Linked DNA regions of Homo sapiens. The protein of the gene in region 2 binds, or shares a complex with, the protein of the main gene of each other region. Each region holds a gene or a part of one and is shown on either strand. Other genes may lie near its edges. The genes, in order: RAB8A and RAB3IP. A codon is read from its position in the direction of its gene.

The links.
Region 1: the proteins of RAB3IP (region 2) and RAB8A are in contact, whole or in part, in a crystal structure (PDB 4LHX), measured with the Homo sapiens proteins. Residues at the interface, in NP_783322.1 of Homo sapiens: Ser199, Arg202, Asp203, Gly206, Leu209, Glu210, Thr213, Ala214, Phe217, Glu218, Ala220, His221, Val224, Asn228; in NP_005361.2 of Homo sapiens: Lys10 (codon at 8,560), Phe33 (codon at 8,491), Ser35 (codon at 8,485), Thr36 (codon at 8,482), Phe37 (codon at 8,479), Ile43, Asp44, Phe45, Lys46, Ile47, Trp62, Ile73, Ala76, Tyr77, Arg79, Gly80.

What each region holds. Positions count from the first base shown.
Region 1 is NC_000019.10:16,108,011-16,120,488, reverse strand, and holds the start of RAB8A (ras-related protein Rab-8A), read right to left. Parts: upstream 8,601-12,478; 5' UTR 8,588-8,600; coding exon 8,464-8,587; intron 2,264-8,463; coding exon 2,203-2,263; intron 1-2,202. UniProt on the Homo sapiens protein: The small GTPases Rab are key regulators of intracellular membrane trafficking, from the formation of transport vesicles to their fusion with membranes.
Region 2 is NC_000012.12:69,751,536-69,767,435, reverse strand, and holds part of RAB3IP (rab-3A-interacting protein isoform alpha 1), read right to left. Parts: intron 12,053-15,900; coding exon of another isoform or gene 12,028-12,052; coding exon 11,777-12,027; intron 11,032-11,776; coding exon 10,773-11,031; intron 1-10,772. UniProt on the Homo sapiens protein: Guanine nucleotide exchange factor (GEF) which may activate RAB8A and RAB8B. Promotes the exchange of GDP to GTP, converting inactive GDP-bound Rab proteins into their active GTP-bound form.

The DNA.
Region 1 (12,478 bases), on a different chromosome or scaffold from region 2:
ATACAAAAGTTAGCCAGGCATGGTGGCAGGTGCCTGTAATCCCAGCTACTCGGGAAGCTGAAGCACGAGAATTGCTTGAACCAAGGAAGTGGAGGTTGCAGTGAGCTGAGATCATGCCACTGCACTCCAGCCTGGGTGACAGAGTGAGACTTTGTCAAAAAAAAAAAAAAAAAAATTAAAGGTGACCTAACTGATTGGTGACAGAGCCAGGGCAAGACTCAGGTCTTTTGTCTCCAAGCCCAGGGTTCCTCCCACGGCCCTGCTGGGACCCGGAGGGCTCTATACGTCTGGATTGTGCAGAAACACCTTGCTTGGAGCTAAGCTGACTTTCTGACACCAGCAGCAGGAGACATGAGTGGTTAAAAACAGTCATTTTTGCCAGGTGCGGTGGCTCACGCCTGTAATTCCAGCACTTTGGGAGGCCGAGGCGGGTGGATCACCTGAATTCAGGGGTTCGAAGCCAACCTGGCCAACATGGCGAAACCCCGTCTCTACTAAAAATACAAAATTAGCCGAGCGTGGTGGCAGGCACCTGTAATCCCAGCTACTTGGGAGGCCGAGGCAGAAGAATTGCCTGAACCCAGGAGGCGGAGGTTGCAGTGAGCCAAAATCGTGCCACTGCACTCCAGCCTGGGCAACAAGAGCAAAACTCTGTCTCAAAAAAACAAAGAAACAAAAAAAAAAACCAGTCATTTTTTTTTCAACTACAGTCCTTAGAAGAGTTTTGAGTCACTAACCTCACCACGATTGCTAAGAGCAGAAGCAGGAAGGCAGGAGGAAAGTGAAACTTCTGCTTGCTGATGCAGTGTCACTTTGGACTTGGGAACAAAGGGTGACATGGCACCAACGTGCTGGAAGTGGAGAAACTTCCATGGCTTGGAACTTACAAGGCAGCCAGAGCTTGACTTACTACCAATGTCTGCAGGATGAACTGCAAGTTAAACCTACCCGACTCCCAAAGTCAGATTAAGAGGTGAACAGTAGGGCCGGGCGTGGTGGCTCACGCCTATAATCCCAGCACTTTGGGAGGCCGAGGTGGGTGGGTCACCTGAGGTCGGGAGTTGGAGACCAGCCTGACCAACATGGAGAAACCCCGTCTCTACTAAAAATACAAAATTAGTTGGGCGTGGTGGTGCATGCCTGTAATACCAGCTACTTGGGAGGCTGAGGCAGGAGAATCACTTGAACCCGGGGGGCAGAGGTTGCGGTGAGACAAGATCGCGCCATTGCACTCCAGCCTAGGCGACAAGAGCGAAACTCCGTCTCAAAAAAAGAAGAAAAAAAAAGAAGAGGTGAATAGCACCTGGAGTCAAGGGTAGCTGTGGGGCTCCCTGAAACTGGCAAGTGGGGGTGACCGGTCAAACTTTGAGACTTGAGGGAGGATGACTTCGTGGCCCATCTCCTGGCACACTGCTCCCACTCAAAGGCACTTGCCTGGTTTGGGTGACAGGGAAATTGCACCATGCTCTTAAATGTGACTTCTCTTTGTTTTGCTCAGGGCCAGTGACTCTGTGCGAGTGGCATGTGTGCAGGGCAGGACCCCACTATACCCGCCACCTGAACTCAGTCTCAGCAAACTAGAATCAGGCCAGCGATGGCGACTTGGAGTCTCCCCACTTCCCTAATTGTATGTGCATGGGAAGTCACCCTTAGTTCTCAGGAATGGAAACAGGTCTCAACATGGGGCCCGGCCCTCCGCTTAATTTCGGTTTGGGGTTTCGGTCTGTACGCTAGGAAGGGAGGCCAGGCCTGCCCCAGGGGAGAAAAGAGGAAGTGAAGTTGGACCTTTATGCTTCTGAGTGGGTTGAGAGGCTCAAAAGGAAACTCTCGGCTGGGGCATCTCACAGTCCCTGCAGGCGTCACCAGCACCTGGCACTGAGAGGGCTCTCTTCCCGTTCAACAGAAGCAGCCCACTCTGAAGGCCAGACCCAGATGGTGCCCACTGTGGAACACTGAGCTAGCCAGGGCTGGGCAGCTTTGTGCCTATGATGCTGTAGGCCCTGGTGCCCTGCAGCCAGCAGAGGACAGCTCTCTGGGCTGGGTATAAACCTCCAGGAGCTTCTGGAGAAAGCCCCATGTGCCAGGACTGGGCACCAAGAAATGGAGGCCAAGGTCACAGGGACGGTGGAGGGAGAAGGCCAAGGGCTTCTGGCTTGAAGCCATTGCCAGGTGGAGAGAATGACAGAGAACAATGACTCTTACCATATCTGCAGTTTAATTCTCTTGCCATCGAGCTCTATGGTCCTAATTTTAAAGTCAATTCCTGAAAGAAAAAAGAAAAAAGGCACGTCACTGTCAGCCCATTTCCCAAGTTGTGTCTGAGCTGGGCGCCACCAACCTGTGCAGGTGACAGCTGTTGTGGCTTACGGAGACCCTGCCTGGTGCTGGGCATGCAGGATGTCGGAATATCCAGATCTGGAAACACTTGGAGATATTTTCCCTCTCCAAGAGCTGATGGGAGCAGTGCAGAGCAAACCCAGGGGGCGCGGGTGGCAAAGCCCTGCTCTTGTCCCTTGCTGCCAGCTGAACCCGCCTCCCCACCCCAGGCAGTTGTACGGAGTGGGTCTCAACAGAGCCCTCTGCAGGCCTGAGTCCCTTGCTCCCCAACACCCTGCAGCTGACCAACCCCCAGGCACACAGGGCCTTAGGCCCCACCATGCGTCAATGCACATGGTCACGTTCTCTCCTGCCCCCAGCTTTTGTACATGCTATTCATTTTCTGCGGGTGGTCTGTGTCCCACTGGCCCGTCAGCTAGGCACACTTCTCCTCCTTTAAGGCCCCCTTGAAGATCACCTCCTAACAAGCCTTCCTGACCCCATCTTCCTTGTCTCTCACCTCCCGCTTTCATCCCCTTTCCCCACGGTGACCTCGCAGCCACCTTGATGTTCCCCAGGCTCCCACTGTTCACCCGCAGTCCCCTCCCCAGCCTTCAAAAATATAACCCTAACCATGTTACACAGCTAACCTCTGCTCCAAACTTACTTTCTTTTTTTTTTTTTGAGATGGAGTCTCGCTCTGTCGCCCAGGCTGGAGTGCAGTGGCACAATCTTGGCTCACTGCAGCCTCTGTCTCCCAGGTTCAAGTGATTCTCCTGCCTCAGCCTCCCGAGTAGCTGGGACCACAGGTGCCTGCCACAATGCCCGGCCAATTTTTGAGTTTTTAGTAGAGATGGGGTTTCACCGTGTTGGCCAGGCTGGTCTCAAACTCCTGACCTCAAATGATCTGCCTGCCTCAGCCTCCCAAAGTGCTGGGATTATAGGCATCAGCCACCGCACCCGGCCCTCTGCTCCAAACTTTCTAGTATGTCCACCAACAGATGAATGGATGAACAAAATGTGGTCCAACCATACAACAGAATATGACCCAGTCATAAAAAGGAACGGAGTACTCATCCATGCTATACAATGTGGATGAACCTTGAAGACAGGATGCTGAGAGAAGCCAGACACTAAAGGTCACTTAGTGTGAGATTCCATTAACAGACATGTCCAGCATAGGCTCATTCATAGAAACAGAAAGCTGATTAGCAGTTGTCTGGGGCTGGGGGGGCACATGGGGAAACTGGAAGGGTTGGTATCCTTTTTTTTTTTTTTTTTGAGATGGAGTTTCTCTGTCACCAGGCTGGAGTGCAGTGGTGCGATCTTGGCTAGCCTGGAGTGCAGTGGTGCGATCTTGGCTAGCCTGGAGTGCAGTGGTGCAATCTTGGCTCACTGCAACCTCTGCCTCCCGGGTTCAAGTGATTCTCCTGCCACAGCCTCCCAAGTAGCTGGGACTGCCGGCACGCGCCACCATGCCCAGCTAATTTTTCTATTTTTAGTAGAGACAGGGTTTCACCATGTTGGCCAGGCTGTTCTCGATCTCTTGACCTCGTGATCTGCCCACCTCAGCCTCCCAAAGTACTGGGATTACAGGCGTGAGCCACTGTGCCACCGTGCGTGCCTGGCCTTGGGTTGGTGTCTTTTTGGCATAATAAAAATGTTCCCAAATTGCCTGTGGTGATGGTTGTGGAACTCTGTGAATGTACCCAAAGCCACTGAATTGTACACTGCAAATGGGTGAACTGTATGCGAATTCTATCTCATAAAGCTATTTTTTTTTAAAGCCTCTTTCAGTGGCTTCCCTGCCCCACTTCCCTCGAATAAAGTGGAAACAGCTGCTCATGTGTGTCAAGGTCCTGCCTAACCTGGTCACCTCTCAGCACTCTGGCTCATGACCTGCTCTCTCTGGCCACACCATCCACACAGCGATTTCCTCAACATTCCAAGCATGCTCCTGACTCGGGGCTTTGATGTTTGCTCTTCCCTGCCCTGGAAAGTTCTTTCTTCTGTAGCTACCTGGCTATCCCTTTGTTCAGGTTCCCATTCAAGTTCCCTCCTCAGGGGAACCTTTCTGACCATCCTCATCAGTTCTCCCTTTACCTATTTATTAACATAACTGACATACATGTATGTATCTGCTGCATGGACCTGGGCATAATGCTTGCAGATCATAATGGCCCATGTAGATGAGAAACAGCCAGACCCAGCCTTTGCCACCAGGAGTTTGTTCAAGTGCCTGCTGGGGAAGACTTGAGGCCCAGGCCTGGCTGGGCCTCTCTGAACCCAGGGTGGGGATGCTAATTCCATCCATCCAGCCCCAGCACTGGACTTTCGCCCTCTCAAACGTAAGCTCCCTGGGGCAGGGAACTGACAAGTCTCATCCACTGCTATTACCTCCAGTGACTGAACACACAGGGGTTGAATACACATTTGCTAGAAGCTGGTACCCCAGTCCTGCACGCACCTTGACTCACCTGTGTCCTTTCTGCAGCCCTCTTGCCAAAATGGCTGCCTGGCCCACAGAAGACACTGGCAAAATATGGCTGGATCAAAGTATTAAAGCGCAACAGGGTCTACGCGGTGTTGAGCGGTTCACAAAGCACTTTCTCAAATGCCAACCCTTTCACTGGAGGAATCAATGGGCCCCTGAGGAGGCAGTGGCGCCGAGCCAGGCTGGTGAGAACCCATTCCAGGGAGCTACAGGGCCAAGTTCACACCACAAATGATCTATGGGGCTTCTGAGAATAGGCTTTGATGAAATGTAACTTTTGGCAAAATGTTAAGGATTGAGTGGCAGAAAATGAATAGCCACTCAATCCTTGTCTATAAAGAAAACCCAGAGGTACACTCAGCCAATATAGAATTGCTTCTTTTTTTTTTTGGAGACAGAGTTTTGCTCTGTTGCCCAGGCTGGAGTGCACTGGCACAATCTTGGCTCACTGCAACCTCTGCCTCCTGGATTCAAGCGATTCTCCTGCCTCAGCCTCCTGAGTAGCTGGGAATACAGGCAAGCGCCACCACGTATGGCTAATTTATGGAATCACCTTTAAGCATTAAGGTGATACTGCTTCAGGACTAGACAGCCCAGTGTGCCTGGGCTTCCTAAAACATTCCCCATTTCCTGTCACACGTGTACAGGGACACAAAAAATCGAGGAGCACTGTTAGGTTGGCCAAGCTCCACAGCAGCACTCCGCCCTACACTCCTCTGGGTTTTATTAACATGCCAAATTTAATTAGGAAGTGTAAACTTTATGAGGCCTAAGAATTATGAGGTCTGACCTTCAAGGTCATGGTGAATTAGACTTTCCTAGAAGACAGAAGGCTACAAATGGAAGGAGGGGAATGAAGGGGTGGGAGGGAGGGATCTTAGGGTCAGGTGCCACCTCCACCTTGCTAGGTAACTTTCACCAAGTCACATCCTCATCTGCAAATGGAAGAAAGCCTCTTTAAAGCTCAAAGTAACTCTAAAGAGGGGGGTTGGGCTGGGCGCGGTGGCTCATGCTTGTAATCCCAGCACTTTGGGAGGCCAAGGTGGGCGGTCACGAGGTCAGGAGTTCGAGACCAGCCTGGCCAACATGGTGAAACCCCATCTCTACTAAAAAAAAAAAAAAAAAAATACAAAAATTAGCTGGGCATGGTGGCAGGTGCTTGTAATCCCAGCTACTTGGGAGGCTGAGACAGGAGAATCGCTGGAACCTGGGAGGTGGAAGTTGCAGTGAGCCGAGATCGCGCCACTGCACTCCAGACTGGGTGACAAAGAGAGACTGTCTCAAAAAAAAAAAAAAAAAAAGAGGGGGGTTTGTGGGGAAGGCTGGGAAACTGGGATCTGAGTGAATGCAAGCCAGTCTGCTCACAGTTAACATCATTTCTTTCTTTCTTTTATTTTTATTATTATTTTTTAAGACAGGGTCTCGCTCTGTTGCCCAGGCTGGAGTGCAGTGACACCATCACAGCTCACTGCACCTTGACCTCCTGGGCTCAATCGATCCTCCCACCTTGGCCTCCCAAGTGGCTGGGTCTACATGGGTGAGCCACTGTGCCCGGCTGATTTTATTTTATTTTTTGTAGAGATGGGGTTTGCCATGTTGCCCAGGCTGAATTAACGCCACTTCTTGATTGGTTGGAGCACAAGAATTACCCTAAAGTTTAGCCTTGGAGTGGGGGAGGGGGAAGAATTCAGAAACATCTGTCTTCAGAGGCTGGATGCTGTCACTGCAGGAGCCATTCATTTGCTTCCTCTAGATAGCCTCTGGTTGTGGTGACAACCCCTTATTGTCTAATTCTAATCCTCAACCACCAGGGCACTAGGCTGGGCAGACAGTGTCACTCCTGCTCTAAAGACAGCAGGGCTCAGAGAGGGGTAGTGCACATTCAAGGGCAAACAGCAACTGGAAACCAGACGTAATGATTTCCAGTCAATTCTCTCTATTTTACATCTGGCATATAACTGTTTTATAAAGCACAGCTCCGCTGGGTGCGGTGGCTCATGCTTGTAATCCCAGCACTTTGGGATGCCAAGGCAGGCAGATCACAAGGTCAGGAGTTCGAGACCAGCCTGACCAACACAGTGAAACCCTGTATTTACTAAAAATACAAAAATTAGCTGGACGTGGTGGCGGGTGCCTATAATCCCAGCTACTAGGGAGGCTGAGGCAGGAGAATTGCTTGAACCCGGGAGGCAGAGGTTGTAGTGACCCGAGATCCTGCCGCTGGATTCCAGCCTGGGCAAAAGAGCTAGACTCCGTCTCAAAAAATAAAATAAAATAAAATAAATAAAGCATAGCTCCTGGAGGAGGGCAAGAATGGAATTAGCACATTATCTTGGGGTTCAGGGAGATAACACGATTCTGTCAAAGTGACACAGTAAAGCAAAGGCCATTCCCTAGGTTTTCTTGAGTCGGAATAAACTCCTGGACTTAGTGACCGTTCCCCCACTTTCCCCATCCCTAGCAGGGCTACAGAGCTCACAAGCCACTCAAATAGGTGTTACTCCTGGGTCAAACCTTTTCATTGTGGGCCAGGACTGCTTTTGTGGCACTGAGAGAGGTCAGCTCCACTTCTGTGGACATCACAACTGAGATGCACCAAGCCAATTCTGTTCAACCACAATGTGGGCTGGCCCTACAGGAAAAGCTGTTCTAAAGTGACAGCTGGAGTCTTGGGCCCTTTGATAGGGAAGTCAAGGCTGTCTGTGGCAGTGGCTGATTTAGTTTCTCGCTGAGGCTTTTATCTTGCATCTTCTTGGGGATGACAGGTCCCAGGGCAGGCAGTGCTGTCACTTGCCATTGCTGTCATTCCTGGAGCAGGATGAAAGGTGGGCAGGGAAAAGGTCCTGACTCTTCTTATCATTCCTTCTAGAGGAAAATACGCTTATGAGGGGAAGCATGGTCAGGGAGAGGGGCTCAACCTCTGAACGCTCCAGAGAAAAGAGCAGGAATGGTGTGGGTTAGAGTCCCGGCTCCAAGGTGCATTAGCTGAGCTTGTCATCAGCTGGGAGTGTGCAGTGGCATCTCTCTAGGAGAGCTAAGCCTCGAGTTTTGGGTTGAGACACAGCCAGGTTCAAATTCCATCAAATCCCATTCTCACCACGTGCAGACTGTGTGGCCTTGGGCAAGTTCCATGCCCTCCCTGAGCCTCAGATTCCTCATCTTGTCAGACGGGCTCATAACAGCACTTAACACCAAGAACTGAAGAGTGTGAAAATGCACGTGAAGCACTTGGCACATAGTAAATGCTCATTAAGGTGAGATGCCACTGTCTTTTTCCCATGGCCAATTCCCCATGACTCAGTTTCCACTTCTGTAAGGCAAGAGCCTCAAAAGAACCGCTTCGAGGGCTGCTGCTAGGACAGATCGAGAGGACGGGCGCGAAGACCCCAGCCCAAGACATAACACGCCCTAACGAGCGGGCTGAGGGTCGGAGCCTCAGTCTCCCTATCTGCAAAATGGGCACCTGGTCTCCCCCACCACGGCCCAGGAACCCCCGAACGGCGGTGCAGGCGACTGCTCTTCTCCCTTTAGGCCCCCTCGACCCTCTCAGCGCCCTCGGCCCGTCCAGCCCTGTAGATCCCTCAGCCCCAGCCCCTCAGGGGCGCGCCCAGCCCGGGCCTCCGGCGCCCCCAGCCATTCCCCGGTCCCGTTACCTATGGTGGAGATAAAAGTGGAGTTGAAGGCGTCCTCGGAGAAGCGGAACAGGACACAGGTCTTCCCCACCCCCGAGTCCCCGATCAGCAGCAGCTTGAACAGGTAATCGTAGGTCTTCGCCATATTACACTCTCTCCCCGACGGGAAGTGCGGCCAGCGCCTCTCCACTGGCCACCAGCACCGTCCATCAGCACCGAGCCCGCCCCTTATTGGCTCCAGGCCCGCTGCGCGTCACCGCGGCCGACGCCCGCCCCTGCGTCCCGCCAGTCGCGGGGAGACCTTGGGAGGGGGCGAGCGGAGCGCGGAGCCGGAAGCAGCCCGAGCGCACCTCCCATTGGCCGGCACTAGGGAGAGCACGGGCTCTGATTGACCAGCAGTGAAGAGTCGCGGGGCTTCAAATGGGGACGAGGCGGGGGCGTGGCATTATGTGGCCCCCGCCTTCCACCCCCGACTCGGGCGGCCCGGCCCCGCCCCACTGTAGGAGAGGGAAGGCAGGGAGCGGCGCCAACCGCTCGCGCGCCGGCAGCCTGGCGGGGCGTGGCTTGGGGTGCGTGCGCACGCGCGCCCGGAGTTCCGTTAGGCGACAGCAGAGGGCGCACGCCAGTAGTTGGGGCGGGTGTCTCTGGGTCCCGCCCTCACAGCTCGCGCAGGCGCAGTAGGCACCGAGGCGAGCGCGGGAAAGCAAGGTAGCGCTCTCAGCCTTGTCTGCGGCCTGCGAGTCGGGGCAGTGGGGGCCTAGGGAGGAAGGAGAGAGGAGGAGCTGTATACTCGAAAAGTGACCCAAGCCGGACGCGGTGGTTCACGCCTTTAATTCCCACACTTTGGGAAGCCGAGGCGCGTGGATCACGAGGTCAGGAGTTCAAGACCAGCCTGGCCAAGATGGTGAAACCCCGTTTCTACTAAAAATACAAAAATTAGCCGGGCGTGGTGGCGGGCGCCTGTAATCCCAGCCACTCGGGAGGCTGAGGCAGAGAATTGCTTGAATCTGGGAGGCGGAGCTTGCAGTGAGCCGAGATCGCGCCATTGCACTGCAGCGTGGGCGACAGAGAGAGACTCCGTCTCAAAAAAAATAAATAAAAGTGACCCAAGACGAGCTCCGAGGTCTGCGGCCTAGCGATCTGCTTAGAGATACCCAAGGCCTCCGCCATCTGAGCGGCTTCACCGCCACAAGCTGTGCCCGGAAGCGCGCGCCGGCCTCCTCAGGGCCCGCCCTCGGCCACCTTAGGGGTTGTCCGGGCCAGCCCGGGGATGGTGGGGGGGGAGGGGTTAGAGCAGTGAGGATGCTGGGTCCTATCTAGGGGCCAGGGCTCTCAACGTTGAAAAAACTGGCCGGGGCGTTGGCTCCCGTCTGTGATCCCAGTGCTTTGGGAAGCCAGGAGGTTGAGGGTGCAGTAAGCCGTGATCGCCCCACTGCAATTCGGCCTGGGCGACAGAGCAAGACCCTATCAAAAGAAAAAAAGGCTGGGCGCGGTGGCTCAGGCCTGTAATCCCGCACTTTGGGAGGCCGAGGCGGGCGGATCAGGAGGTCAGGAGATCGAGACCATCCTGGCTAACGCGGTGAAACCCCGTCTCTACTAAAAACACAAAAAATTACCCGGGAGTAGTGGCGGGCGCCTGTAGTCCCAGCTACTCGGGAGGCTGAGGCAGGAGAATGGTGTGAACCCGGGAGGCGGAGCCTGCAGTGAACCGAGATCGCGCCACTGCACTCCAGTCTGGGCGACAGAATGAGACTACGTCTCAAAAAAAAAAAAAAAAAAAAAAAGAAAGAGAAAAACAGAGGAGAGATACATTTGGAAAATCGGGCTTGCAGCTGGGTGTGGTGGCTCAGGCCTGTAATCCCAGCACTTTGGGAGTCAGCACTTTGGGAGGCAGGAGGATTGCTTGAGCTTAGGAGGTCAAGACCAGCCCGGACAAGATAGGGAGATCCCCATCTCTACAACAAATAAAATTAGCTGGGCGTCATGGTGCACGCTTGTAATCCCAGCACTTTGGGAGGCTGAGGTGGAGGTTCATTGGAGGCCAGGAGGTGGAGACCAGCCTGGGCAACATAGCAAGACCTCCATCTCTGCAAAAAAAAAAAAGTTTTTTGGCCAGGCGAGGTGGTTCACACCTGTAATCCCAGCACTTTGGGAGGCCAAGGCAGGTGGATCACCTGAGGTCAGGAGTTCCAGACCAGCCTGGCCAACATGGTAAAACACCATCTCTGCTAAAAATACAGAAACTAGGCAGGTGTGGTCATGTGCGCCTGTAGTCCCAGCTACTCAGGCGGCTGAGGCACCAGAATTGCTTGAATCTGGGAGGCGGAGGTTGCAGTGAGCCGAGATTGTGTCACTGCATTCCAGCCTGGGTGACAGAGCAAGGCTCCATCTCAAAAAACAAAAAATTTTTTTAAAAAATTAGCCAGGTATGGTGGTGTATGCTTGTAGTCCCAGCTACTCAGGAGGCTAAGGTGGGAGGATCCCTTGAGCCCAGGAGGTCAAGGCAGCAGTGAGCTGTGATCGCACCATTGCACTCCAGCCTGGGCGACGGAGCAAGACCCTGACTTTTTTTTTTTTCTGAGATGGAGTCTCTCACGGTCACCAGGGCTGGAGTGCAATGGCGCGATCTTGGCTCACTGCAACCTCTGCCTCCCGGGTTCAGGCGATTCTCCTGCCTCAGCCTCCCAAGTAGCTTGGATTCCAGGCACCCACCACCACGCCTGGTGTGGTGTATTTTTTTGTATTTTTAGTAGAGATGGGGTTTCACTGTGTTGGCCAGGCTGGTCTCGAACTCCTGACCTCGTGATCCGCCTGCCTCCACCTCCCAAAGTACTGGGATTACAGGCGTGAGCCCCTGCACCCGGCCCCTGACTCTTAAAATTTTAATCCCAGTACCAGCCCAGCAAAACGATGTTATTGTTTTTTTCCTGTTTAATGGTGAGAAAACTGAAGCCAGAGGAGGTTAAGTGACTTTTCCCCCTTCCTGCTTAAAAGTGGGAATTTGGTATCTGAACTCAGAGTGCCAAGCTTCCCAGGCCGCAGTTTGATCACTAGGGCTCCCTGCTTCTTAGAGATGGTCCAGTCTGTTCTAGGTCACTCTGGGGCCTCCGGGGCCTTGAGGCTTACTTAAGGATCTGTGGAAGGAGGGCCCAGCCTTTCCTCCTCCCTTCCACTTCAGCTCATTCTTCTGCTAATCTAGCTCTGGTTAAAAAAGCTTCAACCAGAGGCATTGACCACCTACAGGCCTCAGCCTCTGTGGTATTTGATAGTCTTGATCACCTCTGAATATTCTTTTTTCTTGGTATTATCCTCATTTATTTACTTATTTTTGAGACAGGGTCTTGTTCTGTGGCCCAGGCTGGAGAGCAATGGTGTGATTTCACTCACTGCAACCTCCGCCTCCCAGGCTCCAGTGATTCTCCCACCTCAGCCTCCAGAGTAGCTGGAACTACTGGCATGCACCACCACGCATGGCTAATTTTTATTTTTTGTAGAGATGGGGTCTTGCTATGTTACCCAGGCTGGTCTGGAATTCCTGGGCTCAAGCCATCCTCCCACCTCAGCCTCCCAAGTAGCTGGGACTACATCTGCACGCTACTATGGCAGGCTAATTTTTTTATTTTTTGTAGAAATGGGGTCTCCCTATGTTGCCCAGGCTGGTCTCAAACTCCTGGGCTCAAGAGATCCTCCAGCCTCCACCTCCCAAAAAGCTGGGATCACAGGTATGAGCCACCATGCCTGGCCCTATACCATTATTATTTTTTTTTTTGAGATGGAGTTTCACTCTTTGTTGCCTAGGCCGGAGTGCAGTGGCACGATCTCAGCTCACTGCAACCTCTGCCTCCCGGGTTCCAGTGATTCTCCTGTCTCAGCCTCCTAAGTAGCTGGGATTACAGGGGCCCACCACCACATCTGGCTAATTTTTGTATTTTTAGTAGAGATGGGATTTCACCACATTGGCCAGGCTGGTCTCGAACTCCTGAGCTCAGGTGATCTGCCCACTTCGGCCTCCCAAAGTGCTGGGATTACAGGTGTG
Region 2 (15,900 bases):
TGGCCCCATCCCCCTGGAGCTGAGCAGGGAGCTCAGACCACTGCCTGAGGCAACAGAGTTTCTACCATTAAACAAGTATATACCCAGCAGCATTGGCTACAGCTGACTCTTATCAATAAGCATGGCCTACTGACTTGTAGGTCAAATGCACAGCCCAATATAAAACCTGCTGAAAGAAGTGCACAGAACTATAGAAGCAAAACCAAAAGATCCTACCCAGAATTCTCTACAGTCACACCCCAATAGGGAGGAAAAGAAAGGAAAAGAAAAAAACAATTATAGGGAAGAAAAAAAATCCTACTCACATGAAATTAATTACAAAAATTAGAAGTGCAATCATCTCCAGATGAGGAGAAACCAGTGGAAGAATTCTGGCATGATGAAAAATCTAAATGTAGTAACACCACCAAGGGATAGCACTAGCTCTCCAGCAACAGTTCTTAACTAAAATGTGAACTCAGAAATGACAGATAAAGAATTCAAAACATGAATTGCAAGGAAGATCAATGAGATCCAAGACAGAGTTGACAATCAACATAGAAGAAACTTCTAAAGCAATCCAGGAAATAAAAGAAGAAATAAACATATTCAAAAGAAATCAGAGGTTCTGCACCGGGCATGGTGGCTCATGCCTGTAATCCCAGCACTTTGGGAGGCCGAAGTGGGTGGATCACCTGAGGTCAGGAGTTCAAGACCAGCCTGGCCAACATGGTGAAACCCCATCTCAACTGAAAATACAAAAAAAAAATAGCTGGGCATGGTGGCAGGCGCCTGTAATCCCAGCTACTTCGGGAGACTGAGGCAGGAGAATCACTTGAACCTGGGAAGCGGAGGTTGCAGTGAGCCGAGATGGTGCCATTGCACTCCAGCCTGGGTGACAAGAGTGAAACTGTCTTAAAAAAAAAAAGAAAAGAAAAGAAAAAGAAATCAGAGTTTCTGGAACCAAAAAACTGACGTAAGGAATTTGAAAATACAATTGAAAGCTTTAGCAACAGATGGGACCGAACAGAAAAAAGAATTTCAGGGCTTGAAAAATGGTCTTTGGAATTAACCTGGTCAAACAAAAATAAAGAGAAAATAATTTTAAAAAATGAACAAAGTCGTTGAGAAATATGGGATTACATAAAAGAAACAAACCTATGAATTATTGGCATTCCTAAGAAGAAGAAAAAGTAAACAACCTGGAAAACATATTTGAGGGAGTAATTCAAGAAAATTTCCCTAACCTTGCTAGAAAGGTAAACACCCAGATACAAAAAATCTAGAGAACTGCAAGATACTATCCAAAATGAAGATCGTCACAGGACATAGTCACCAGACTGTCCAAGGTCAATGCAAAACACAACAAAACAAACAAAAATACTTAAAGGCTGAGAAAAAGGTTAGATTACATAATCACATACAAATGGAGCCATACCAGGCTTTGGACTTCTCAGCAGAAACCTTACAAGCCAGGATAGATTGGGGACCTATTTCCAGCATTCTGAAAGAAAAGAAATTCTAACCAAGAATTTCATATCCTGTCAAACTAAGCTTCATAAGCAAAGGAGAAATAAAATATTTTCCAGACAAGCAACTGCTAAGGGAATTCATTACCACTAGACTAGCCTTACAAGATACCCTTAAGAGAGTTCTAAACATAGAAACAAAAGAATGATACCTGCTACCACAAAAATTAGAGATCCTCTCTGCCACATGCCCAGGCAGATCTCCATGCATTCAAAGCACCTGCATGCTTCGTTCGGCAGCCTGAGTTGCCTCACTCCTCCTGTGCAGAGGCTTTGATATAGGCGGGTCCTCTCTGCTCCATGCTCAGGCAGACCTCCTGGTCACACTTAAGTACACAGGCCAATATCCCTGGTGAACACAGATTCAAAAATCCTCAACAAAATACTACCAAACTGATTCCAACAGCACATCAAAAAGTTAATTCATTATGATCAAGTAGGCTTTATTCCTGGGATGCAAGACTGGTTCAATATACACAAGTCAATAAATGTGATTCACAACATAAATAGAATTAAAAACAAAAGCCATACGATCATCTCAACAGAGGTGGAAAAAGCTTTCAATAAGATCCAACATCCTTTCACGATAAAAACGCTAAAGAAATTAGGCATCAAAGAAATGTACCTCAAAATAATAAGAGCCATCTATGACAAACCCACAGCCAACATCATACTGAATGGACAAAAATTGGAAGGCTTCCCCAAGAACTGGAACAAGACGACGATGCCCACTCTCACCATTCCTATTCAACATAGTACTGGAAGTGTTAGCCAGAGGAATCCAGCAAGAGAAAAAAGTAAAAGGCAACCAAACATGAAAAGAAAAAGTCAAATTACCTCTCCTACAGACTATATGATTTTATACCTGAAGAACCATAAAGACTCTTCCAAAAGGTTCCTGGAACTGATAAATGACTCCAGTAAAGTTTCCAGATACAAAGTCAATGTACAAAATTCAGCAGCATTTGTATACACCAATAACATTCAAGGTGAGAGCAAATCAAGAACACAATCTCATTTACAATAACCACACACACACACAAATACCTAGGAATACATCCAACCAAGGGGGTGAAAGATCTCTACAAAGAGAACTATAAAATACCGTTAAATCATAAATAACACAAAGAAATTTTAAAAATATTTCATGCTCATGGACTGGAAGAATCAACATTGTTAAAATGGCCATACTGCCCAAAGCAATCTACAGATTCAACGGTATTCCTATCAAACTACCAATGTTGTTTTTCACAGAACTAAAAAAAAAAAAAGTATTTAAAAACTCATATGGAACCACACAAGGGCCTGAATGGCCAAAGCAATCCTTTGAAAAAAGAAGTCAGAGGTACCATATTACTTGACTTCAATCTATTTTATAAGGTTACAGTAATCAAAACAGCATGGTGCTGGTACAAAAACAGACACATAGACTAATGGAACAAAATACAGAACCCAGAAATAAAGCCCTGGACCTACAGCCATCTGATCTTTGACAAAAATCAACAAAAATAAGCAATGAGGAAATGACTCCTTATTCAACAAATGGTGCTAGGATAGCTGGCTAGGCATATGCAGAAGAATGAAACTGGAATACCCATCCCCCTTCACCATATACAAAAATTAAGATAGATTAAAGATTTCAATGTAAGAAATCTTTGCCATAAGAATCCTAGAAAACAACCTAGGAATAAGCCATAAGAATCCATAAGCCATAAGAATCCTAGAAAAAAACCTAGGAAACACCATTCTGGACATCAGCCTTGGGAAAGAATTACCACCATTCAACTCAGCAATCCCATTACTGGGTATATATCCAAAAGAAAATAAACTGTTCTCCCAAAAAGACACATGCACTCACATGTTCATCCCAGCACTATGCACAATAGCAAAGACATGGAATCAACCTAGATGCTCATCAACAGTGGATCAGATAAAGAAAATGTAGTGCATATACACCAAGGAATATTATATAGCCATTAAAAAAGAACAAAATAAATTCCTCTGCAGCAACACTGATGCAGCTGGAGGCTATTATCCTAAGCAAATTAACATAGGAACAGAACACCAAGTATTGCATTTTTTTCACTTATAAGTGGGAGCTAAACATTGTACTCATGGACCTAAAGATGGGAAAAATAGAAACTGGGGACTACTAGACAGGGGAGGGGGACAAGGGCTGACAAACTAACAATTGGGTACTATGCTCAGTACCAGGGTGACAGGATTATTCATAACCTAAACCACAGAACTATACAATATATCCAGGTAATATACCTGCACATATACCCCCTAAATTTAAAATAAAAGTTGAAGAAAAAAAAATTTTAACAAGTGAGATCAAGATCCTGAAGCATTTTCAAAGAATTATAATAGGAGATGAAACATAACTTTTCCTGTATGATGCTGAAGACAAAGTACAATCAAAGCAATGGCTACCAAGAGGTGGAAGTGGTCCAGTCAAAGCAAAAGTGGACTGATCAAGAGCAAGGGTCATGGCAACAATTTTTTACATGCTCAAGGCATTTTGCTGGTTGATTTTCTGGAGGGCCAAAGAATGGTTAACAACTGCTTACTATCAGAGTGTTTTGAGAAAGTTAGTCACAGTTTTAGCAGAAAGATGCCCAAGAGAGCTTCACCAGAGTCGTTCTCCACCACAACAATGTTCCTGCTCATTCCTCTCATCAAGGGCAATTTTGTGAGAGTTTCCATGAAAAATCATTAGGCATACACCTTGCAATCCTTATTTGGCTCCTTCAGAATTCTTTGTTCACAATCTTAAAAAAATATTTAAAAAGCATCCATTTTTCTTCAGCTAATAATGTAAAAAAGACTGCATTGACATGGTTAAATTCCCAGCACCCTCAGTTCTTTAAGGATGAACTAAATGGCTGGTTATCATCCCTTATAAAAGTGTCTTCAACTTGACGGAGCTTATGTTGAGAAGCAAAATAAAATTTATAGTTTTATCTCATAAAAAAATATTTGTTAATGTTTACAAATGTCTTTGGCTACAGTTAGTAGAACCAATACTGAATAGGGTTAGTGCAAGTATGTGATTTTCAATGACTCTCTTTGCAAGCTATCCTACTGGGCTTTATTTTCTAAGTCATTTCATTTTCTTTTTCTTTTTCTCTTTTTCTCTTTTTTCTTTTTTTTTTTTTTTTTTTTTTTGAGACGGAGTCTCCCTCTGTTGCCTAGGCTGGAGTGCAGTGGCGCAATCTCAGCTCACTGCAAGCTCCACCTCCTGGGTTCACGCCAGTCTCCTGCCTCAGCCTCCCAAGCAGCTGGGACTACAGGCGTCTGCCACCACACCTGGCTAATTTTTTGTATTTTTAGTAGAGAAGCGGTTTCACCGTGTTAGCCAGGATGGTCTCGATCTCCTAACCTGGTGATCTGCCCGCCTCGGCCTCCCAAAGTGCTGGGACTACAGGCGTGAGCCACTTCGCCCAGCTCATTTTCTTTTAAGAAAAATAAAAGTTTAAAATAACCTCTTACAGCAGATTTCACCTTTTAGTGAATGTAAGAATCAACAAGTTTGATGAAAATGCATATTCCCAAACCTCAACACAATAATTTGATTTCAGCAGATCTGGAGTAGAGTGCAAGGATCTATACTTAATAAGAATGCACTAAAGCCCAATTTCCTCCTGAGAATTCCACTAAAAGCTGCTCTTCAGAAATATCCTATGGAAGGCCAAACAGCTAAATGACTACATCATAATCTCTGGCATCCCTGCACCTGAAAATAAGTGACCACATGATTGGTCCCCCTACACACACAGTATGGATTTGTTGCTGGGAAGTGGTTGTCCATCCAGGGATTACATTACCCAGCCCACCATACATCTAGGTATTGGCATGAAAGGTTCACACCAATAGAATGTGAGCAAAAGTGATGTGTATCATATCTAAGCCAAGGTTTTTTAGAAGAAGCTGTACCTTCTCTAAGCTGTCTTTCCCTTTTGTCTCATTGGTTAGATACAAATAACAATAAAACCCTAAGAAATTACAAAGGCCCCAAACAGAAGAGAAACAGATCTCTGAATTATTTCACAGAGAACTGCCTACCAACTATGAACATCTGCTTCAGAGTGTTAAATGAATAAAAATGAACTTCTATTAGGTAAAGTCACGAAAATTTGGGGGTTACTTATAAGCATCACCCTAATATATCAGGCATGTGTGTATACAAACACTTGTATAACCGCATATACATGTATATATTCATTTAATCAACAAAATGTATTGAAAACCCATTATATGCTCAAGATATAATCATGAGCACAAACATATGCAATCCTTATCCTCATGAATCTCAGAAGTACTGAAGCATGTGTGTATAAATGCAGGTTTTTCTATGTGGATTACTTGAATGGGGTAGACAATGAAGTAATATAAATGAGTAAGTAGAACTTTCACTTCCAATTAAGATAGAGGAACAGGGATTAGATTTACCACCCATCTGACACAACTAAAACTCTGAAAAAATATATGGATCAACAATTTGAAGCATTTGATATTAGGCAATAAAAGACAGTGATCCCCTAGAAATGAAAAACAAAATGTGCACCCCAGATCTGCCCCAGCTTATTATCTGAAGAGATGAAATAATTAGAAACAAAACATTTATTAAACTGCATCCCAACATATTAAGCAGAGCAAGCAAAGTATAAAAAAGATCCAAATCAAACTTTCAGAGATGAAAACTACAATGTCTAGTTTAAAAACATACTGTATGGGATTAACAGATTAGATATTTCAGAAGAAAAGAGTAGTGACTTTGAAGACATAGCAATAGAAACTACCCACAATGAAACACAGTGAGGAAAAAAAGATTTTTAAATGAAAGACTGTAACACCAGCAAGCTGTGAGATAAGTTTAAGCAGTCTAATGTACATGTAATAGGAATCCAGAGGAAAGGAGAGAGAGAGGAAGAATGGAAAACTTTTTGAAGATATAAAGGCCAAAATTTCCCAAATTTTATGAAAACTAACAACCTACAGCTTCAAGAAGCTCAATAAATCCCAAACATAAGAAAGCTGAAGAAACTACACCAAAGCAAATCACAATCACATTGCTTATGCCAGTGAGAGAGGACTCTCATAAGCAGCCAGAGAGAAAAGACCTAATACGCAGAGGAACAAAGGTAAGGGTAACAGCAGACTTCTTGTGAGAAACAATGTACATGCTTGAAAACACTGAAGCAACATCTTTACAGTAACAAAAAAAAAAAAATTATCAATCTTAAATTCTTTACTCAGTGAAAATATCTTTCAAAAACCAAAAATGAACACAGACATACAAAAGCTAAAAGAATTTATCACCATCAAACATGCACAACAAAAATGTAAAAGGATGTCCTTCAAGCCAAAGGAAAAATGATACGAGTTGGAAATCTGGATCCACATGAAGAAATGAATACCAAAGGAATGAACACACAGAGCAAGTCCCCAAACGGATCCTGAGCAAGAGGAGAGTTGGAGGCTCTCCCTCTCCCTCTCCCTCTCCCCACAGTCTCCCTCTCCCTCTCCCCACGGTCTCCCTCGCCCTCTCTTTCCACGGTCTCCCTCTGATGCCGAGCCAAAGCTGGACTGTACTGCTGCCATCTTGGCTCACTGCAACCTCCCTGCCTGATTCTCCTGCCTCAGCCTGCCGAGTGCCTGCTATTGCAGGCGCACGCCGCCACGCCTGACTGGTTTTCGTATTTTTTTGGTGGAGACGGGGTTTCGCTGTGTTGGCCGGGCTGGTCTCCAGCTCCTAACCGTGAGTGATCCGCCAGCCTCGGCCTCCCGAGGTGCCGGGATTGCAGACGGAGTCTCATTCACTCAGGGCTCAATGTTGCCCAGGCTGGAGTGCAGTGGCATGATCTCGGCTAGCTACAACCTCCACCTCCCAGCCGCCTGCCTTGGCCTCCCAAAGTGACGAGATTGCAGCCTCTGCCCGGCCGCCACCCCGTCTGGGAAGTGAGGAGCGTCTCTGCCCGGCCACCCATCGTCTGAGATGTGGGGAGCGCCTCTGTCCAGCCGCGACCCCGTCTGGGAGGTGAGGAGCGTCTCTGCCCGGCAGCCCCGTCTGAGAAGTGAGGAGCCCCTCCGCCCGGCAGCCGCCCCGTCCGGGAGGGAGGTGGGAGGTCAGCCCCCGCCCGGCCAGCCGCCCCATCCGGGAGGGAGGTGGGGGGTCAGCCCCCGCCCGGCAGCCGCCCCGTCCGGGAGGGAGGTGGGGGGTCAGCCCCTGCCCGGCCAGCCGCCCCGTCCGGGAGGTGGGGGTTCAGCCCCCGCCCAGCCAGCCGCCCCGTCCAGGAGGGAGGTGGGGGGCGCCTCCGCCCGGCCGCCGCCCCGTCCGGGAGGTCGGAGGCGCCTCTGCCCGGCCGCCCCTTCTGGGAAGTGAGGAGCTCCTCTGCCCGGCCACCACCCCGTCTGGGAGGTGTACCCAACAGCTCATTGAGAACGGGCCATGATGACGATGGCGGTTTTGTGGAATAGAAAAGGGGGAAAGGTGGGGAAAAGATAGAGAAATCAGATTGTTGCTGTGTCTGTGTAGAAAGAAGTAGACATAGGAGACTTCATTTTGTTCTGTACTAAGAAAAATTCTTCTGCCTTGGGATGCTGTTGATCTATGACCTTACCCCCAACCCTGTGCTCTCTGAAACATGTGCTGTGTCCACTCAGGGTTAAATGGATTAAGGGCGGTGCAAGATGTGCTTTGTTAAACAGATGCTTGAAGGCAGCACGCTCGTTAAGAGTCATCACCACTCCCTAATCTCAAGTACCCAGGGACACAAACACTGCGGAAGGCCGCAGGGTCCTCTGCCTAGGAAAACCAGAGACCTTTGTTCACTTGTTTATCTGCTGACCTTCCCTCCACTATTGTCCTATGACCCTGCCAAATCCCCCTCTGCGAGAAACACCCAAGAATGATCAATTAAAAAAAAAAAATCTTAGAAGTGACCAGAAGGAGGAAGAAAACCAATTATCTACAAAGGAATGACAACTACATTGACAGCTGGCTTCTCATCAACAATGATAGATGCCGGAAGACAAAGACGTAAAATTATGAAAGTGTTTGTTGAGAAAAAAAAAAACAACCATCAACCTAGAATTGTATGCCCCGTTAAACTATCATTCAAAAATAAAAGTAAAACTTGTAAAAAAAAAAAAAAAAAAAAAAAAAGGAATGAACACACAGATGCCCATGTAGCTAACATTTCTGATGTTTATCTATGTAAAGATTCTTTGTTATTATTTAAGTCTCTTTAAAAGATAATACTGTTTAATGCAAAACAATAGTGTTTTGTGGGGTTTAAACACACAAAGAAGTGAAACATACAACAATTATTGCACAAAAACTAGGAGGGGAAAAATAAAAGTATACTTTTGTAAGGTTTGTACACCAGATGTAAAGTAATATATCACCGGAAGGTAGAGAGTGATAAGTTAAATATGTCTACTATAAACGCTAAAGCAACAAAGATAAAAGCCACAGGAAGATGAAATTGTTTTAAAAATACAGAATTAATTCAAAAGAAAGGATACAAAAGGGAAAAAGGAACAAATGAGACAAACAGAAAACAAACAGTAAGATGGTAAATTTAAACCAAACTATACCATTATCCATTAAATGTAAATGGTCTAAACACCAATTAAAAGACAGAGATAATTACAAAGGATCAAAAGAACAAGACCTAACTGTACACTATCTATAAGAAACTCGTATTAAATAGGAAGACACAGTTAACCAAGTAAGTAAAAAGTATAGAAAATGGCCTCTCTTAAGATAAGACTAAAGAAAATGGCTGTTGACATAGTTTGATTCACAAGTTGTCACAATTCAGGAAGTATTTTTATATTCAAGAGTCCTTTTCAAGCCTTGAGATCTAAGTAAATATTAATACTAACTTATACTCTTCATAAAAGTCACCACATATGTGTTTACACATCACCATTTCAATTATCCAAACAGTATCTCTAAATACAGCATATTAGAGATTTCAAAGGAAATTCTCAAGTGAGCTAAGAAATTAGCAATCTGTTCTGATCAATAACCATGTGTTCTCAAAGATGGATACATATACTCAAAATTTTACCTCTATATAATGTGTGATTTTAATAAAATACTATCTATTAAGACAACAAAGTCTGAGCCAGATGACAGAAACAAAATGCAACCACATCTCACCACATCCTTTTCCTTTGGGAAGGAACTGGGGATTAAAAAAATGAATATACTACGCTCATGAGAGACAAGTATGCTAGGGAAAGAGTGGGAATACATTTGTGAAATGTCATGGTAGGTTGGATATTACACCTATAAATGTTTGCCCTACCTTCTCAATTTTCTACATGTGAATTGGTATTTCACCTAGGTTGTCAGGTTTATATATGCAGTTTTTCATATCATTCCATTATACTTTTGATATGAGTCTCCAGTGACATCCTGCATTTCACTCCTGCTACTGATAAATCTGTCTTCTTTTTGTCAGTCTTGCTAGAGGTTTGCAATTTTATTAATCTTCTTAAAGAACCAACATTTTGTCTCACTCATTTTCTCTATTTTTTCTGTTATCAATTTCATTGATTTTTGCTCTTTATTATTTCCTTCCTTCTACTTGCTCTGGTTTTATTTTGCTCTTCTTTTTACAGATTCTTAAAGTGGGAGCTTAGATTGTCCATTTGAGACTTTTCCTGTTTTCTGATGTATGCATTTCATTCTATAAATTTTCCTCTGAAATTTAACTGCAGACTCAGAAAAAGAATAAGATATGGCCACAAGTTTGGAAATAAATAGCAGAAACTTTTAAAATGACCAAATGGGAAACACAACAATTTACCAAGAAAATTCTCCAAGGTAAGATACAGAAAATATTCAAACTCAGCTTAAACTCAAAACAAAATGACTTAGACTGAGTGACTTCAAGTAAATAACCATTTAGTCAGCCATGTAGTAAGAAGGAAAAACCCTGCATGTGGAATATAGCCCACTCAATCTGCATTACAGATAATACGAGACAGGGAGCAGGCAATGCAGTGGGGCACAGAAGAGTTAACAGAGCCACATTTTTCCAGTTAGTAGTCTTAGAGGAACTTCTTTACTACCCAACCAGTTTCACGGATTCCTAAATGCTGCCTAACAGGAGCTGAGGCTGGGCATATGTGACGGATAAATGTACAACCATCATGATTTCATTTCTGCAGGTTGCCCCACCCCATGGAGAAATACTAATTTCTAATATAATATATGGAAGAATAAAATATCTTCTTTCTTACCCTCTGAGCTTTTGCGAGTTCTTCTTTTAATCGTTCATAGCCCTTTTCTCTAACTTCCAAAACAGATGGGCTTCGTAAACGAGACAGACTATCAGTACTCAACCCAAAAATATCATCACTGCCATCGCAAGCCTCTGTTATAGTAGCACCCTGTAAAAACTCTCTCTCTGCATTATAGTTGTCCTTTCTTGTAGTTAATTTAGTTAATCCAGCTGTGACTCCAGAGGTAGAGCAAGGGGCTGGGTCTGTAACATGAAAGCTGTAAAGGAGAGAGACATTTTTCAGAAAATATCAGCATATGCTCCAATAGAACTGGCTTAAACACACAGCTCTAGAACTGTACTACCCAATTTGGTAGCTTCTATATTTAAATAAATAGTATGTCCTCAGTCATATCAGCCACATTTCAAGTGCTCAATAGCTACATGTGGTTAATACCTATCATTCATATTAGATAGCACAGAAATAGAACATTTTCATCAACACAGAAAGTTCTACAGGACAGTGCTACTCAAGAGCAGGGGTTAACAAACTATAGCCTACAGGCTAAACCAAGCCTTCCACCCGTTTTTATAAGGTATCAATGAGCCAAGTATAGTTTTTACAATTTCAAATAGTTGAAAAGAAATCTTTAAAAGAATATTTTGTGACACATGAAAATTAAATGAAATTCAAAATTCTGCATCCATATATGAAGTTTTATTGGAACACAACCACTCTCATTCATTTACATACTGTCTATGGCTGCTTTCAAACTCTAAAGGCAGAGTTGAATAGTTGCAACAGAGACTGCATGGCTTGCAAAGCCTAAAATATTTACTATCTGGTCCTTCACATATAAAGTTTGTCAACCCTGTTCTAGAACATTATCAGGTCATGTATTTCTTTACCTAGGCACACTTAAGTTATTCAAATTTTCTAAAAATAGTAAAACTTAAAATATAGTAACTAAGCAAACTGTCCATTTTAAAAAAAATCAAATAAGTGATTTACTTATTTCCTACCTGATACTAGATATTTCCGCACAATTTAAACGTCTGGGGGATGAATACACGGGTTGTGTAGGAAGTTCAGAAACATCTAATGCATTTGCCTGGATAGGTACAGAGGATAAAGCTGAAGGGTGTGGCCGGTAGATGACACTTGGTGAGGTAGTCTGCTCTTGAGTTCCTGATTCATACACACCAAGAAGGTCCGGAGAAGTAGGTGAAGCAAGGTTTACTTCATGGAAGCCTTCCAAGGGATCATTAGCCATAGCAAAAGCCTCATCATAAGATAACCTATGTTAAAACAAAAAGCAGATACTTATTTTTAGATAATAACATTTAAAACTAAATTAAAATGCATAAATTATAAAATGTGTTTAACAGTCCATTGTAAATTATAAGCTTACAATAAAAGAGGCTTTTTTTAAAAAACCACAATCACATGGTGGTATATGCCTGTAGTACCAGCTACTCGGGAAGATGAGGTGGGAGGATTGCTTGAGCCCAAATGCAGGTTGCAGTGAGCCGTGATCACAACCCTGCACTCCAGCCTGGGTGACAGGGCAAGACCTTCTCCCACTCAAAAAACAAAAACAAAAACAAAACACCACAATCACTTAACATTTACTAAGCGATCTCACAGTATAACTACTACAAAAGGCAAACAATCTGATTTAGAAGAAACCTGAAAGTGATAAGCAATGCTGTTAAAGTGAGAATAATCAATTAGTATGAGGAATGAATAAAAATTGGCTTAATTTTTAAAAATATTTTAAAATTATTAAATGTTCATATTAAAATAAATTATCTCAGTATACTATTTAAATATGAAAATACTAAAAACAAAATCTAACAGTATTATGCAATCTTAGACTCAATAACAATTATATTATGCTGTGAAACTCTTAAAACAATTTTTTTAACAGAGAACATTGTATTTATCATGTACAACATGTTTGAAGGCACATACACATTGTGAAATAGCTAACTAGCTAATTAACGAATGCGTTACCTCATGCCATTATTTTGTTATGAGAAAACTCAACATTTACTCTCTGCATTTTTCAAGAATTTACAATATATCGTCAGGAACTACAGTCATCCTGCTGTACCATAGATCTCTTGAATTTATATTTAACTTTCTGATTATACATGACCTTGGTTAGAGTAAGTAGAAAGGCGGTAAAGACACACACATACTCTCTCATACCTGTCACCCAGATTATGAAATTGTTAATATTTTTGAGTCATTTAAGAATGTTTCAGACATGATGCCCACTTAATATCTCAATGTATACATATACACAGTGTGTGTGTGTGTGTGTGTGTGTGTGCCCGTGTATCTGTGTATGTGTGTGTGTATCCTAAGTACAAGGACATTCTATCTAACCACAAAATCATCATCAAAATCTGGAAGTTAACATTGATTAAAATTACCATCTAATCAACAGGCCCCATTCAAATTTCACTAATTGTTCCAATAATATCCTTTATATGTACAGGATCCAATCCTGGATAATGTGTTTCATTTCTATAAGCCTTAAATTTCTCCTCTGATGAGATTAGAATGGGGATAACACTAGCCCCTCCCTTGTCCTGGTTGCTGTGAGGATTGAAGGAGACAATCCATGTAAAGTATTTTGTAGAGTACTATGTACCTGACATAGAGTATGGCCTCAATAAACTTGAATTATCATAGCCCAGCCACTAACAATACCACATATGCTTCAGGTTCTCCATAAGCAAAAAACAGTTCATGTAACTATTCAATTATATCACAAAGTTTACATGGAAACTAACTTGAGTGTACCACTCAAGTTTTTCCTCTGAAGAATTCAAAGCTAAATGGCATCTTACAAATTCTTTATTGATTTTCCCTGTCTGCTGAATAGAGACCAAACTTCTTAGCCAAAAAAGTAAGGTCTTCTAGGATCTGAATCCAATCTCTCTTTCCAATTTTTTTCCTTCCTATGATAGTACTTTGACAGTTGTGAATAACATCTTCCCGGAACTTAGAAAATGCCAAACAGGTCAGGCTTGGTGGCTCATACCTATAATCCCAGCACTTTGGGAGGCCGAGGCGGGTGGATTACTTGAGATCAGAAGTTCGAGACCAGCCTGGCCAACATGGTGAAACCCTGTCTCTACTAAAAATACAAAAATTAGCTGGGCATGGTGGCCCATGCCTATAATCCCAGATCTCGGAAGGCTGAGGCAGGAGAATCATTTGAACCCAGGAGGTGGCAATGAGCTGAGACACTGCACTTCAGCCTGGGCGACAGATTGAGATTCCAACTCAAAAAATAAAAATAAAAAAAATGCCAAACCAAACAATATAGCACATCATTTCTTCCATAAGATACAGAAGTAGTCATTTGTTAAACTAGCTGAAAAATTTAACTCTCAAATCCTTAATAAAAAGTGTTAATACAAGTAGAGAATAAAAACAAAAAGATTTCAGCAAAGTTGAAAGAGATCTGACTCAGTATCATTTCAAAATTACAAATTAGTATGTGTCACAGACTTTCCAGCATATAGACAACCCAAAGTGCAACAATTAAATCTACAAATGACAAATTTCAAATCCAATCAGCTGTTTACTAATAGCAAATGATTTATTCTTCAAAATGAAACTAGTCCTTGCTTTTTTCACATAAAATATTCACTATGCCAAATGAAAGATGAGATTAATAAGGAATGTAAGGTGTTTAATACTCCATTAAAATTTATTATTTTTTCACCCAAAAGAATTTTCATTTTTTATTCATAATCCATATACCCACATATACCAAGAAAACTGCTATATTCAAAGTACATAATTCATTTTCACTTGAATATAGTTCAGGCAAGTACACTAACCAATTCATTAACATAAAAAACCTTTGTATTACGTTTGCATTAAATTTTGACATTTTAATCAGTAACTATTTATGATTCTTTCTTCTATCCCATATACTATGAATTCACCTCTTTATATCCTGAAGGTTCACTGAATCATAAAACGTAAAAGCATTTGCATTTCTGGAAATACAAAATAGTACAAATCCTATGGAGGAAAATTTAGCAATAACTTCAAAATGATATTAAACCTGTGACCCAGCATGCCACTCCTGGGGCTTTATCCTAAAGATAAACTGGCAACATGACAACAGCACTCTTCGTAATAGCAAAAAACTGATTCAATGAACCAGGGTACATCCTCATAATGAAGCACTGCACAGATGTAAAATACATATCCATGTATCGCTATGAAGTGACATCGAAGATATACCAGTAAGATAAAAAACAGGATAAATAACAGTAAACTACCTTTTATCTAAAAAAGGAGAATAAAAATAAATAAATATATATATATAATTTTTTTTTAATGGAAAGGCTAGGTTCAGTGGCTCACACTTGTAATCCCAAAAACTTGACACACAGAAGCAGGAGGACAATTGTGGCCAAGAGTTAAAAGACTAGCCTGGGCAACATAGTGAGATCTTGTCTCTACAAAAAGTTGTAAAATTAGCTGGGTGTGATAGTGCAGGCCTATAGTCCTAACCACTTGGGAGGCTAAGATGGGAGGATGGCTTGAGCTGAGGAATTTGAGGGTACAGTAAGCTTTGATTATACCACTGCACTCCAGCCTGGGTGAAAGAACGAGACCCTATCCTGAAAAAAAAAAAAAAAAGAACAAAAGAAAAAAAAGCAGGCAAAATGGTTACCTATAGAAGGAGAGATGACAGAGTGAAAAATATGAAAGCTAGACTTTTTTCTGTAAGTACCTTGCTTTACAGATTTGATTCTGAGCTTGGAACCATGTAAACAGTAAAAATTAAAGTTTAAAAAAGAATCCCTAAACATAAAGCAAATAAACTTGTGTACTGAGATGGTAGCTTAACCACACAGAAAAGAACTACTTCGAGTGATTTTAAAACATAACAACATAAATATATATCCCTAATGGAATGTATTCTAAAAGCAAAAGGAAGTGAAAAAAGTCACAACCTATTTTCAATGTTAATAACAGTAGTAATATTGATACTGTGATTCTGAAACTTTGTTATAAGATGAAGCAAATAAGTTATGCTAATGTCATTTGGAACTAAGATTTTCAGCATATTAGAAAAACTACAAATATAAAATCAAAGAATTTAAAT